Homo sapiens: one gene and its partners. The protein of the gene in region 1 purifies or fractionates together with the protein of each later gene. This does not show direct contact. Each region holds a gene or a part of one and is shown on either strand. Other genes may lie near its edges.

Region 1 (3,500 bases):
TAAGGTATTTTGTACTCCTCAAAATTGGGAACACCTCAGGAGATTTTTTTTTTAATGTGTTAGAGAAATAAATATATTAATAGTAGTACAGAGCAGGGTAGGACTTTACGACCCTTTAACAGAGAACCATGTGCCTTCTCACTCAGCACAATTTTTGAGGGATATGCATTTGTTACTTCCTGTATTCATCTTTAACAATAAGATATTTTCAGTTAAGAAAAAAAGATGTGAATTTGGATTAATATAGCTCTCAATCATAAACAAACCCTAAACCAGGAGTGCTTGTTAAGTCTTCCACAGCCTGGACTTCAAACTCAGGACCTGCACCCACCCTCCGATAAGATCTTTTACAGAAATATGACCTCTGTCCAAGTCAGTTTTCAAATCAAAAAGCTTTACACTCTTGGCAGCTTGACAGCTTGGACCTTGGGTGTTTACCAAGAACTTCCCCAAGATAGGAAGGGTGACTCCATCACTACTGCCTCCCCACCCACCCCCCTAGTGTGGAGTTTCCCTTTGTAAGAGCTGGCACCTAGCCAGGGCCTCAGAACTTCAAGGAGTAAGTCTATAAACTGTCTGTGTCTAGTACATGGTAGACATCTAGCTCAGGACAGTTTAAGTTAATAAATGAAAAGCGGTCCACCATAAGCCAGCTAACAGTTGGTTCTGACTCCGTATCACACAGCCTGGCATCTGTGCTCATCTTTAGCAGGCCAGAAGTTACCTGTCTTTGCTGCTCACCTCCTGCATTCTTGCCCCTTAAGTGCCAATTATGCGATGTTAACAATCCTGTGCACAGGTATGCACCTCCATGTTCACCCATTCCAGCAGTGGCTGCCTGCCAACTTTCTGAGCTGGGAGGTCACCCACCTAGATTTTGTGGAGCCGGTCCAGGGCCTTCTAACCCCCAGGATACCCCAAGGAATGTCCTAATCTGGTGACAGAAGCAGTTCAGGGCTCTCTAGTGGTTTCTATGGAGATTATCTGGGCCTCCACTTATTTTCTTCTTGTACTACTGCAATTATGGAACTGAGAATAATTCTGAACTCTTGTTCGCCTAGCTTTGCACCAACACCAACACTGTTCTCCTCTCAATGTGCTACACTCCAGCCACAGGCCATTCCAGTTCCTTTTGGGGTTTTCAAACATGCCAAACTTGCTCCCATCTCCAGTTCTCTGCACTTGACTTCCCCATGCCTGCAACAGCCTGGAAGGCCCATGGTTGCTTTCCCTCATTATACAAATATGAGCTTAAATATCATCTCAGAAACCTGTTCATCCTACCAAAAACGTACCACCTCCAATAAATCTCCAGCATATCACTCCATTTCCTCTATAGCATTTGGTATAATCTGCAGTTGTCTTATTTATTTGTATATACTACCTAATGCGCTCACTAGAATGTAAACTCTGGGAAGATATTGCTTCAGATGCTCCACTGCTACCCTGTTAGTCCACATATTTCCACCACCCTATAAAAGGGCAAGAACAGATTGCTCAATAATTTGGCTGCTAGAATGTTTTCAATGCTGGACCAGCCCTTCATTTAAGATAATCAGGACTGAGCAGAATTTTCCTGGTAAGCCCTGGGGCTTATGAAATCAACATACTCTAATATAGGTGCTCCATATATAAATATTGAACAAATAAATGAGCTAGGATCCAAGTGGCTTTGCGACAAGCTTGGACAAAAAGAGAGATAACAAAAGAAACAGTCCCATTCTTTACCAGATAGCATCACAGGCTGCTGATCTTCCCCAACAGGAAAAGGAGTGCAGTTTCCAAACTAGCTCTAACAGGCAGAAACCAATCACAGCCAGGCCCATTACAAACCCAGAGAAAAAGCATTTACAACCATAAGGCTCATTTACCCAGATCTCTGTCACAGAGAGGGAAAAATCAATTCTTGTCCTAAAGTATTCTGAAGCTGACCTGCTGGTGCATCCACATAAAATTTTATTTCAGCATGCTGACAACTAAATATAAGGAGATATGGGGTCTAATTTATAGACATCCTGGCATCTCTATAGAAGTGGATGGACATAGTTCAGAATCTGATGCTATGATAAAAAGAAAATACTTGGGCTTTCTTTTAAGGGACTTAAGAGAGGAAGCTGGATTTTAAAATATCCTCAAATGTTACATAATGTTAAGAAGTGGTTTTTATTTAGGTGTTATAGTTTTTTTTACATTGTGGTTATACAGTTTTTAAAATAAGAGTCCTTATCTTTGAAAGGAACATACCAAAATATTTCCAGATGAAATAATATGAAATCTGAGATTTGCTTCAAAATAATACCAAAGGAGGGAAGTAGGTGGGAGTACAGACAAAACGGGACTGGCCTTGAGCTGGTAACTGTTGGAGCCGGCTGACAGGTGCATGGGAGTTAATTATTCGCTCAACTTTGTGTATGTTTGATGTTTTTCCTAATAAAAACTTCGGAGTCTCACTCTGTTGCCCAGGCTGGAGTGCAGTGGAGCGATCTTGGCTTACTGCAACCTCTGCCTCCCGGATTCAAGTGATTCTCCTGCCTTAGCCTCCTGAGTAGCTGGGATTACAGGCACATGCCACCATGCCCAGCTAATTTTTGTATTTTTAGTATAGACAGGGTTTCACCATGTTGGTCTGGTCTCAAACTCCTAACCTCATGATCCACCCATCTCAGCCTCCCAAAGTGCTGGGATTACAGGTGTGAGCCACCACGCCCGGCCATAAAAACCTTTTAAAAAGCTGTTTAAGACAAATCATCTTCACTAGTGAAATTACAGAAGTTACCTGAAGGTGAAGGTTTCGCCGTGCCGGTCCTGCCATGGGCTCTCCTGGATGCCATCCTGGGTCACAGGCGAGTTCTGCCGTGGGGATTTGGAGTGGGGGAGGGTGCCCATGTGACTGAAGTCATCACAGGACCTTATGGGAGGAGGACCTTTTTTCTTCCGTGGAAGGGTGCCATGTATAGACACATCTTGATAGGCATCTGGGCGATGCTCAGCGAGAGGGGACCTGCTGCTCAGAAGGTCCATGGATGAGGCCAGGGGGAACTGGTGATTCACCGGCATGTTTCTGGGAAGGCTTGCAAATTTTCCTGCAGCCATAATTCTCAACTCTAAGGGGGAAAGAAAAGAGTGAAGGTATAAATCTATGAGAGTCACAAGAACTGACTTCCTACTTACAAAAGGAAATGGAAATATGCCACATAAAATGAAATATTCACAGACCATTAACAGATCAACATTTAATGGCATCACTAGTGGAGTCTAATAAGAATGGGAAGTTTACTTATCTTCCTCCTGAAATGATCCTACATAGGAATTGTCCTGGGTTGGCAGCAAAACCAAGAGGGCAAACACTTTCAGAGTTGTTAGAGGCATATAAGCCATGCACAACCAGCAAAAAAAGATGATTAAGAGAGGACTCATAGTTGCAGTAATAAATGTACGAAAGAAAATATTATAAACTGTTAGATAATTAGCTCACATTATTTTCACTGCCCTGTAAATGA
Region 2 (3,500 bases), on another chromosome or scaffold:
GTTTTTTTTTTTCTTCTTGCTGGGGCATTGGAAATGTCAGAAAACCCAATTAAACTGGCTTAGAAATAATGGAAATTTTTTGGGCTCACATAATAAAAAATTTAAATAGTGGACCTAATCCAGTGGCTCACAGCATGTCCCCGGGGATCTGTCTGTTGTTTCTCTTCTGGTTGCCTCCCTTGGGGACGCAGGATAGCTGCTGGCTGCTCCCAGAGGTACGTCTTTTCTATTTGCTTTTTGTGGGAAGGTGATCTTTCAAAAAAGTGCTCTTTATGGTGGAGTTTATAGATTGTTGCTAACGTGGTCCGGTACTACTGACAGATAAACATGGTCTTACCCAATTAAATGAATACATACCAAAAGTAACTGTCTAATGAAATAAGACCTGTATTCATACCACTTTCTCTCCTCGTTCCTGACAGAACTCTCTCAGAACAGCCTAGCAAGCAGAAGGCAGTAGAAGTTTGTTAAAAGAATGGACAATCCAGCCCACCAAATAATCTGATATTGAGTGTTTGAATTATGGAGGGAAGCTAAACTTCATCCCCTGTGAGGCACCCATCCTGGGCTTCACTCACACTGGACTAGGGTGGGTCACGTGCCCACCTCTAAACCAGTTCCTGGAGTTGGGAGGGCGGAATTAGAGCTCAAGACTTCTTCCTCCCCTCTACAGCCACATTGCACTGGGCTCCTTGTGACACACGTGTGCTCCATGGGGGGTGTGTACCCAGGTAAACCTAGGGGCTCTTATTCAGGAGGGAGGGGGCACTGGGTGGTTAAAAACAGCGATTGTCACCATGGCAAAAACAAGATGTTTTTTATGAGGGAAATAAAAAATAAAGCAGTCCTTCCAAACTTTCCAGAATATAGATATAATGGAAACTTTTGTATATGCAAATGATTACTTATATATGTAGAGATGCAATATATAAAATATAAACAATCATCTTTCGTCCACATAAGATCGCCCTGATTTGTAGCATTTGCTAATTTCTGTGGTATAAATACTCCTACTGTGGCTGATGCCAGGCTTCCAGCATTATGTGACTGAGCACAGAGCTGTGCAGTGATGAGCAGCATCAGCAGGTGCAGCCAGCTCCGGGCACCACTGCACAGATCAGTGCACCTTCATATGCCCAAGGCTCGCAGCAGGGGCGGACCAATGCTGCATTTTATAGACAGAGTAAAGCCTGTCATGTAAGACTATTTATGTGAACCTTTCAGGACACTTGGGGTAAACACATTTATTTAGTAGCATCTTGACTAATAACAATTTCCTTGATCTAAACCTCCCAACAGCTTTTTGGTTCTAAATTATTATTTATTATTTTTCTACCTAGATTTTTAGACATTAGCTCACCCATTTTTTATACGGCTTTCTGTATTAGATTAATTGGTTTTTGCATGTTTTCAAATGAAGAGTGCTTAACAGCAGGGTTACACTTAAAGTAGTTATGTTAAGGTAATTCATAATAATGAAGACAGGCAAGTTGCTGTTTTCTGAGGTTCTCATTGAGGCTAATAGTCTTAAGCTACATCATGAGCCTTAAGAGCCAATGTTTGCATATGGGATGTATACCACGAGCTTCTAGAAGCTGGAATGTGGTAATTTTGTTATAGAAGATTTTATTTGACTCGTTCCTCATTTTAAGATGAGTTGAGAAAAGCTGGGTACTCTCAAAGTTTTTTAAGAATTTATTTTTCTGCTTTATATGCTGCTATCTCCTAGTTGATAGCTTGAACGGTGGTTGATCTAAAGAATCACATTTTTTTTATTACTAATTTGGTTAAAACACTGATATTTGTGAAATGGCTATTTCTGTTTGTAAAGATAGACCAATTTCACAGAATTGAAGTTACTGGCTAATTGAGAGGCTCAAAATGGTCCATCTTCCTTGGTCCTGCAAGAGTAATAAAAAATCCCCACAAAATACTGTTCTGCCACCTTACTTTATTTACAAAACACATTATTGGGCATATTTCAAATCGAAGTCTCATTTCTGTGACACTGGGTTTTGATTTTCTTTCTCTGCCATTGTAAACTAGCTGGTCTGTGTTAGATAAGCTTTTACTGAAGTAATATTGTGTCTTCCCCTGTAGCATTCTCTTTCTTGAGTGACCTTAGGACAGGGTACAGAATAAAATTATATGCTCTGCAGCACTCTTGAGGACACACTCATTTACTTGCTGCCAGATCATCAGGTTAGCCTTGTGCTTAAGCAAAAACACTGCTGCATTTGTGCCAAGTCAGCATTTTCCACAGGAAAGTAATCTGTATTTGACCTTTTTAGTAGAAAATGGAAATAGTTGCTTTCTGTCATACCTTTAGTGAATGATAGGAGACCTATTTCTGTACAGAATACATTGGAACCTCACTAGTACGTTATTGGTAAATAGTGTACAGTGTTCATCTGTCTTGATTTTGTTTCATTCAAGAGGTATCAGTTGCTGAAAGGAATGAAAGGAGCTTGTCCTTTCTTCTCACTTATCAGGTGGTCCTGTTGCTGGTAGTCCCTGAGATCACAGTTGGCTTCCAGCTTCATTTTATTCAGCATTTATTTAGCACCTTATCTTTGCCAGGAGCTAAGATCTTTAAGCTGAATTCATGTTGAGTTTTATAAAGAATTTAGTATGTCAAATAATTTGTAGAATTCTTAGTAACAGAATAGGATAAAAAGCAGTGGAAACTTCTCAGCAGATATTTCGAATTGGATAGTACTTCCTCCCCTGCAGGAAATATGGAAGGTATAAGAACTGCTACTAATTATGCGGAAATTTCAGTTTAGTAACCAGAAAGTTACTGATATACAGCTCCCCCCGCCCCACCCCTTTAAAAATAATAAACAGGGGCCAAGTGTGGAGGCTCATGCCTGTAATCCCAGCACTTTGGGAGGCTGAGGTGGGTGGATCACTTGAAACCAGGAGTTCAAGACCAGCCTGGCCAACGTGGCAAAACCCCATCTCTACTAAAAATGTATAAAAATTAGCCGCACGTGGTGGTGCATGCCTGTAATCCCAGCTACTGGGGTGGCTGAGGCATGAGAATCGCTTGAACCTGGGAAGTGAAGGTTTCAGTGAACCGAGGTCATGCCACTGCACACCAGCCTGGGCGACAGAGTGAGACTCTGTCTCCAAAAAAAGGGATGAATAATAGTAATAATAATAAACAGAAATGCTGTCTCTTTTTTTTTTCTTTTTTGAGACAGTCTTGCTGTGACACTGGAGTGCAGTGGCGTGATCTCGGCTCACTGCAACCTCAATGCAAGCCATTCTTCTGCCTCAGCCTCCTGAGTAGCTGGGATTACAGGCACGTGCCATCATGGCCAGCTAATTTTTGTATTTTTAGTAGAGACGGGGTTTCACCATGTTGGTCAGGCTGGTCTCTAACTCCTGACCTCGGGTGATCTGCCTGCCTTGGCCTCCCAAAGTGCTGGGATTACAGGTGTGAGCCACTGCGCCTGGCAAGAAATGCTGTCTCTTAAGCAAAGAAAAGGTCCCTC
Region 3 (3,500 bases), on another chromosome or scaffold:
ACTCAGGAGGCTGAGGCAGGAGAATCACTTGAACCAAGGAGGCAGAGCTTGCAGTGAGCTGAGATCGCGCCACTGCACTCCAGCCTGGGGGACAGAGTGCAAGATTCTGTCAAAAAAAAAACAAGAAAGAAAAGAAAAGAAAAAAAGTTTTCAAAACTAGAAACAAAATGCACAACAATGATTTCCCCTCCCAGGAAACCCAATTTCTTTAACATTTTGGGTACCTTGTACTTATCCACAATTGGCAGCCTGATTGGTCCATCAACTGATCTATTGAAGTTCGGCAAATTATCCAGATATGGAATAAACGGTAATCCACTGAGAACATAACAACAAAGCCATTAAAGGAAGTCAACATAAATATCAAAATGTTAAGTTACATGACTATAAACAGCTTCTAATAATATTTTCATTCTACTCATGTATTCTTCCCATTCAACCACTTTATTATCCATTTCATCTCACTTATTCCACAGAAAACTATTATAAAACTGCTCAGTATAAGGCTTCCTCATAAACTTATTAAAATTTAGAGAAATATTTTATAGCAAATAGCCTACATGTAATAAATTGACTATATTACTTTTTATGGACTTTTCCAGCTATGAAACCAAGATTCTATAAAATAATTTCCCCTTTAAACATACAGTATTGGCTGCGTGCAGTGGCTCATGCCTATAATCCCAGCACTTTGGGAGGCCGAAAGGCAGGTGCATCTCTTGAGCCCAGGAGTTCGACACCAGCCTGGGCAACATGGTGAATCTGTCTCTACTAAAAATACAAAAATCAGCCGGGTGCGGTGGCATGTGCCTACAGTCCCTACGACTTGGGAGGCTGAGGTGGGAGGATCTCTTGAGCTGGGAGGCAGAGGTTGCAGTGAGCCGAGATCATGCCACTGCACTCCAGCCTGGTTAACAGAGTGAAAACCTGTTTCAAAAAAACAAACCAAAAAAAAGAAACACGGAGTTCAAGAATAAACTCGTATTTATGGTCATTTGATTTTCAAAGAGGGAGCCAAATCAATTCAATGAAAAAAGAATAGTCTTTTCAACAAATTGTGTGTAAACAATTAATATACAAAAACAAAACAAACCTACACATAGACCTTACATCTTACACAAAAGTTAACTCAAAATCAAATACATATCTAAATGTAAAAAACTTCAAAAATAAAACCTTTTGTGCTTCAAAGGACACCATCGAGAAGTGAAAAAAGGCAATCCATAAAGTGGGAGAAAATACTTGCTATAATCATATTGTAGCTGATAAGGGACTGGTAGCCAGTATTAAAAAGAACTCTTAGGACTCAGTAACAAAATGACAACCCAGTTTAAAAATGGGCAAAGATCTTAGTATTTTTAAAGCCAAGGTTACATTTAATATTTTCTTAAATTACTTATAAAGATATATGCTCAAAAGCATATGTTAACATGTTACTCAGCATATGTCTTTATAAGTAATTTAAGTAATAACATCCTTTTCCTTTTTAAAAAAAGGAAAAAACAGTTACTTACATGTACCAAGGACAGAAATCCGACTGCTCTTTGAGATTTGCTCCAGTAAGTCCTGAGCAGGGCATAAAGTGAATGTCCTTTTTGGGATTGAAGCCAACTTTTTTCAAAAATGGCACTAGTTTCTCCTTACATTCTTCATATCTGCAATTATAATGTAACCAAAATAACTCAATTATAATGTAAACCAAGAACTCTAGTTTCCTAAGTAAACAGATTAAGGTTTAGAAAAACCCTAGAGAAAAAGTCGTACAATAACAAAACCATCCTTAATCCCACTAACATAAAATACCAGACATCTACGCTCACCTCTCATTGCTCCAATTTACTGTTGGATCATCCATCTTATTAATTAGCACAATTAGGTGTTTTACACCTGCTGTCTTTGCCAACATTGCATGTTCTCTTGTCTGTCCTCCTTTTTCAAATCCAGTTTCAAACTCTCCTTTCCTGGCTGAGATTACCTAATTCCAAGAAAGGAAACAGTTTACTCCTTCGCCTTCAGGCATACCCTTATGGCAGTAAAACATCTTTCCTTTCAGTTATATCACGAGTTTTTTTTTTTTTTTTTGCAAGAAAATAGAAGCAAACGAGTTATGACGTACCTGCTTTTGAATGTCACAAATCAAACAATGTCTAGATGCTTCCAATCCCCCACATTCCCAAAATCTAGTATACCTGCATATTTTAAAATTCCAACATTTACTTTCTAGCTATTGTAACTACAAAGGAAAAAAAATTGTGATCTACTACCAGTACATTGTGAAAAGCGCAAAATGACTGAAGACCGTATGAAACAGATGGTTTCCTATTCATTTTTTACCCATGGTGCCTAACGGTGGGCTTGGCATTTAATGGAGACTAAGTTCTGACATGGTAATAGATAATAGCAACAGGAGAGAAAAGGTGAAACGTATTTTCAGAAGTAAATCAAATTTTGAAGATTTCTTGAAGAGAGATTAGTATGATGAAAACTGTGACCGTGTACATCATTATATTTCACTGCAACCTGAATTTGAGCTTTTAGAAGATAAATTCAAATTTAAAGATATAAGCGGGGCTACTAACAAATATACAGATGGACTGGAAATGTCTTTCTTACCAGCACAGCCAAATCAGCTTGAGAGGCACCACCAATCATATTTGGGACAAAACTCTTGTGGCCAGGGGCATCTAGAATTGTGAAATGCTTCTTTTCGGTTTCAAAATAGGCACGACCCACTTCTACTGTTTTACCCTTGTCTCGTTCTTCCTGATTTGTGTCTAAGGCCCAAGACAAGTACCTGAAATAATTTTTAAAAAAAGAACAATATTCCTAAGAACATCAGAGTTTTTAGGATATTCTTCACCATTAAAGATATAATGGATGACACACAACACCTAAATCACGAACAAGATTGGTGAAATGAAAATTGAGCCGGGTGCGGTGGCTCACATCTGTAATCTGAGCACTTTGGGAGGCCAAGGCGGCGGATCACAAGGTCAGGGGTTCGACACCAGCCTGACCAACATGGTGAAGCCCTGTCTCTACCGAAAATACAAAAATTAGCTGGGTGTGGAGGAGCCCACCTGTAGTACTTAGGAGACTGAGGCAGGAGAATCGCTTGAACCTGGGAGGAGGAGGTTGCAGCGAGCCAAGACCGTGCCATTGCACTCCAGCCTGGGCGACAGAGCAAGGCTCCGTCTCAAAAGAAAACAAAGAAATTGAAAGAATAGGGCTGGGCGCAGTGGCTCACGCCTGTAATCCCAGCACTTTGGGAGGCCGAGGCTGGCAGATCACCTGAGGTCAGGAGTTCGAGACTAGCCTGGCTAATATGATGAAACCTCATCTCTACTAAAAATACAAAAGTTGGGCATAGTGGTGCACACCTGTAGTCACAGCTATTTCGAAAGCTGAGGCAGGACAATCGCTTGAAGCTGGGAGGTAGAGGTTGCAGTGAGCCAAGATCGTGCCATCGCACTCCAGGCTGGGCAACAGAGGGAGACTCT
Region 4 (3,500 bases), on another chromosome or scaffold:
CTGGCCAGGCCATCAAGGCTCACGTCATCAATGATAAGTCACGGTAATACACGCACCCGATATGCTGTGACGAGACAGGCACTTCACCTCTGTGATATTCTCCCCCTAAACCCATAACCCGTCTAGTCACGAGAAAAAATATCAGATAAATGCAAACTGAGCAATAGTCTACAAAACACCTGATCAGTACTTCTCAAACTGTCAAGGTCATAAAAAACAGAGAAAGAATGAGAAATTGTGATAGACTAGAGGAGACTAGGCAGACACAACTAAATGTAATATGGTACTCTAGACTGGCTACTAGAACAAAAAGAGGGCATTAATAGAAAGTTGGTGAAATCCAAATAAAGTCCAGAGTTTAGGTGACAGCGATGTGCCAAGGTTAGTTTCTTTGTCTTGACAAATCTACCATAGTAATATAAGATGTTGATGATGGGGGAAACTAGGTGAAGGGTAGATGGGAACTCTGTATCACTTCTGCCACTTTTCTGGAAATCTAACATTTTTCCAAAGTTGAAAGTTTATCAAAAAGAAAGCAGTACACTCGCAAGCATATATACCCTATGATTCAACTATATAAAATATATGAATAGAGATAGATTGGAAAAATAGTGGTATTGTATTACTAGGGGCCACTAAAAATTTTTTTCCTTTATTACTAGCATGTTCTTTTAAACTTCCTAAAGAAGCCCATGATAACTGGGAACACGGGCCCTTCACTGAGGCAGGAGAATCACATGAGCCACACATGATATCCACTGGAGGAGACAGAAAGTCTGGGAGTGTCAACTGAATTGAAAGAAAAGGAAAGCAGAGATGACAGACAGCACACCGGAAGTGACAGGATAAGCAGTGCATCTAGCTGGGAAATATGTACACTGCCTCCTTCTATATCTCAAAAATCATCTAGAATGTTAGAGTGATTTTCTGGGTCAGAGGGAAGACACGTCTTCATTTGTTAACTTTTAGATTTGCGTACCAACTTATTACTGTAAGCAATTTAATTGCAAAGGATAAAGAACAAGATATGATGCATCATCAGGAGAAAAGTCAAGAATCCATGTTTAAATTCAGTTACCTTATGTAATCGAAGGTATACATGAGCCGAAGAGAGTTTGTCCACATGAAACCTACAAAGAATGAAAACCACTTTTAGCAAGAGGTACAAGACAATCATCTCCTCAGGCCACATGCCATTTAAAGCATTCTGTTCTAAAAAGTCTTCACTCCATGCCTGCCACATGTGAAGCATCATGAGGAGTATAAAGCACAGTCACCACCTCCAAAGGGCTCCCCATCACCATGAAGAGGTACGAGAAACACTGAATTATGGAGCTGTGAGTAAGTGCCAAGATGAGTAGAGATACTAAATATTAACTGTACTGGGAAGGGTGATTTTTCAAGATATAAAAAGAACTATCAGTGATCAAAGGCTTCATGATAAAAAGGAGGCAGTGAGATTTGGTTGGCCCCTGACTGAAGCATAGGACTTAGAGCAAAACCAAGGAAAGGAATTTCAGGTGAAAAGAGTGGGGGATGAAAGAAGTCAGCAAGTCTCCAATGCTGCCAGCCTGGGAGATTAGCAGAACCACAGTTTGGCGGAAACAGATGACAGTTTCGTTTGTGACATCCCAAATTTCAAGTTATAGCAAAACAATCCAAAGAGAATGTCGAATAGAGAGCTGGAAGAGTTAGGTGGGGCCTAAAGACGCTAAGCAGAACACGTCATTAAATGGGTCACAATTCAATAATGTAACCCAATAATTCACAAGCACAACAGTTCATCCGGCCCTATATTCTGACAGTGATACCAATATATGTCTCTTGGGTGAGCACTGCCCTTTACTGACATTGTCCTAAAAACATTCAGAATGTCCCCCACCCCTTAAATTTACCTTTCATGATGGATCTATCATCTATCAATTTAATTAAACCTTTTAAAATCTATGCAACATTCAGGATATGAGATTTTCATGTTTTCAATTCACCCAATGAACTTGACTTTCTCTTTCCAATACCCAGAAATGCCCCCTCCGCATCCCAGCATCACACAACAAACAAGGTAACACTATCGCCACTTCGTGATTCTGTTAACTTTAGTTGATATGATTTGGATTTGCGTCCCCACCAAGTCTCATGTCGAATTGTAATCCCCAGCGTTAGAAGTGGGGCCTGGTGGGAGGTGACTGGATCATGGGGGTGGATTCTTCATGAATGGGTTAGCACCATCCCTTTGGTGCTATTCTTATGATAGAGTTCTCATGAGATCTGTTTAAAAGTGCACAGCCCCGGCACCCTGCTCCTGCCATGTAAGCCGCCTCGCTTCCCCTTTGCCTTCTGCCATGATTAAAAGTTCTATGAATGAGGCCTCCCAGAAACAGACACTGCCATGCTTCCTGTATAGCCTGCCAAACCATGAGCCAATTAAACCTCTTTTCTTTACAAATTACCCAGTCTCAGGTATTTCTCTATAGCAATGCAAGATGGACTAATACATTAGTCATACTGCTTCCTTGGTCCTTACCTTTCCAGACTGAAGAATGTTCAGAAAATCCTAAAGAGGCATCATTACATCCCATTATGTTTCTCTAGCCATTTTCTTAAGCACTAATAAATGTTTTAGAGGTGAAAATGGTCACCTTCACACCTAGTACAAGATGTAGACTGTATGATTCTATATAAAAGTGCCCTCTTTAAAGAGGTTAGTCATCTTGCTATTCACTATGCATACAGAAAAATATTAGGCACTTTTGGCACACAGTTTATGATGACTCGAGGTTTTACTCTTAATCATTAGTGATAGCCAGAAATGGACATAACATCTTATTTGACTTACATTTCTCCAAGTGGTTCACTTACTCATTTGCATTCCCATGTGAGAGATTCATACTAATTATCACCTTCAGCTGGACATTTTCCAGCCAGAAAAACCTGTGCTTTTTGCAAATCTAAAAATTACATATCTCATTATCCTCTTTCAGAATCTTAGGAAAATATCACACTAGTAACCAAGATAACTGAAAAGTAACTTTACCCATTCCAACTTTTATTTGCCTTAAGCCAGTTCTCTATTTACAACATCTTCTTCCCTATGTACCTATAATAGATTGAATTCTGATTTTTCTTAAAGGTCTCTGATGTAGAATTTTGTCAAAAGAAATACCCAAATAATTCAATATATATTTAATGATATTCATACATAAGTAGAGAAAGAACCAAAACACACACAGGAATATCACTGCCAAAATACAGCAACTTTATCAATATACACCAATTTCAGGTTTGTATATGATAGATACACCTCTACAAAGAGCAGGGGAGAATGGATGAAAGTATAAGAGAAAAAAAAAATCCAGCTCTATAAACAAACTATCTTGAGCGAGTTTCCTTAAAAAAGAAGCAAACGACTTCTCCAATCTTTCTAAACATTTATTCAAAGTTTAAATTACAGCCATAGTTCCCTCTTATCCTTGTTATCTTCCTCTCCCTGTTACCCTTTC

What was found.
Region 2: the proteins of BCAR3 (region 1) and LMNB1 purify together in Homo sapiens (co-immunoprecipitation; one large-scale study listed by IntAct). This does not show direct contact.
Region 3: the proteins of BCAR3 (region 1) and GSPT1 purify together in Homo sapiens (co-immunoprecipitation; one large-scale study listed by IntAct). This does not show direct contact.
Region 4: the proteins of BCAR3 (region 1) and CCDC25 purify together in Homo sapiens (affinity purification with mass spectrometry; one large-scale study listed by BioGRID and IntAct). This does not show direct contact.

What each region holds. Positions count from the first base shown.
Region 1 is NC_000001.11:93,671,838-93,675,337, forward strand, and holds part of BCAR3 (breast cancer anti-estrogen resistance protein 3), read right to left. Parts: intron 3,105-3,500; coding exon of another isoform or gene 3,094-3,104; coding exon 2,777-3,093; intron 1-2,776. UniProt on the Homo sapiens protein: Acts as an adapter protein downstream of several growth factor receptors to promote cell proliferation, migration, and redistribution of actin fibers.
Region 2 is NC_000005.10:126,829,136-126,832,635, forward strand, and holds part of LMNB1 (lamin-B1), read left to right. Parts: intron 1-3,500. UniProt on the Homo sapiens protein: Lamins are intermediate filament proteins that assemble into a filamentous meshwork, and which constitute the major components of the nuclear lamina, a fibrous layer on the nucleoplasmic side of the inner nuclear membrane.
Region 3 is NC_000016.10:11,884,957-11,888,456, forward strand, and holds part of GSPT1 (eukaryotic peptide chain release factor GTP-binding subunit ERF3A), read right to left. Parts: intron 2,795-3,500; coding exon 2,614-2,794; intron 1,976-2,613; coding exon 1,821-1,975; intron 1,656-1,820; coding exon 1,515-1,655; intron 319-1,514; coding exon 225-318; intron 1-224. UniProt on the Homo sapiens protein: GTPase component of the eRF1-eRF3-GTP ternary complex, a ternary complex that mediates translation termination in response to the termination codons UAA, UAG and UGA.
Region 4 is NC_000008.11:27,755,641-27,759,140, forward strand, and holds part of CCDC25 (coiled-coil domain-containing protein 25), read right to left. Parts: intron 2,450-3,500; exon of another isoform or gene 1,131-2,449; coding exon 1,079-1,130; exon of another isoform or gene 663-1,078; intron 1-662.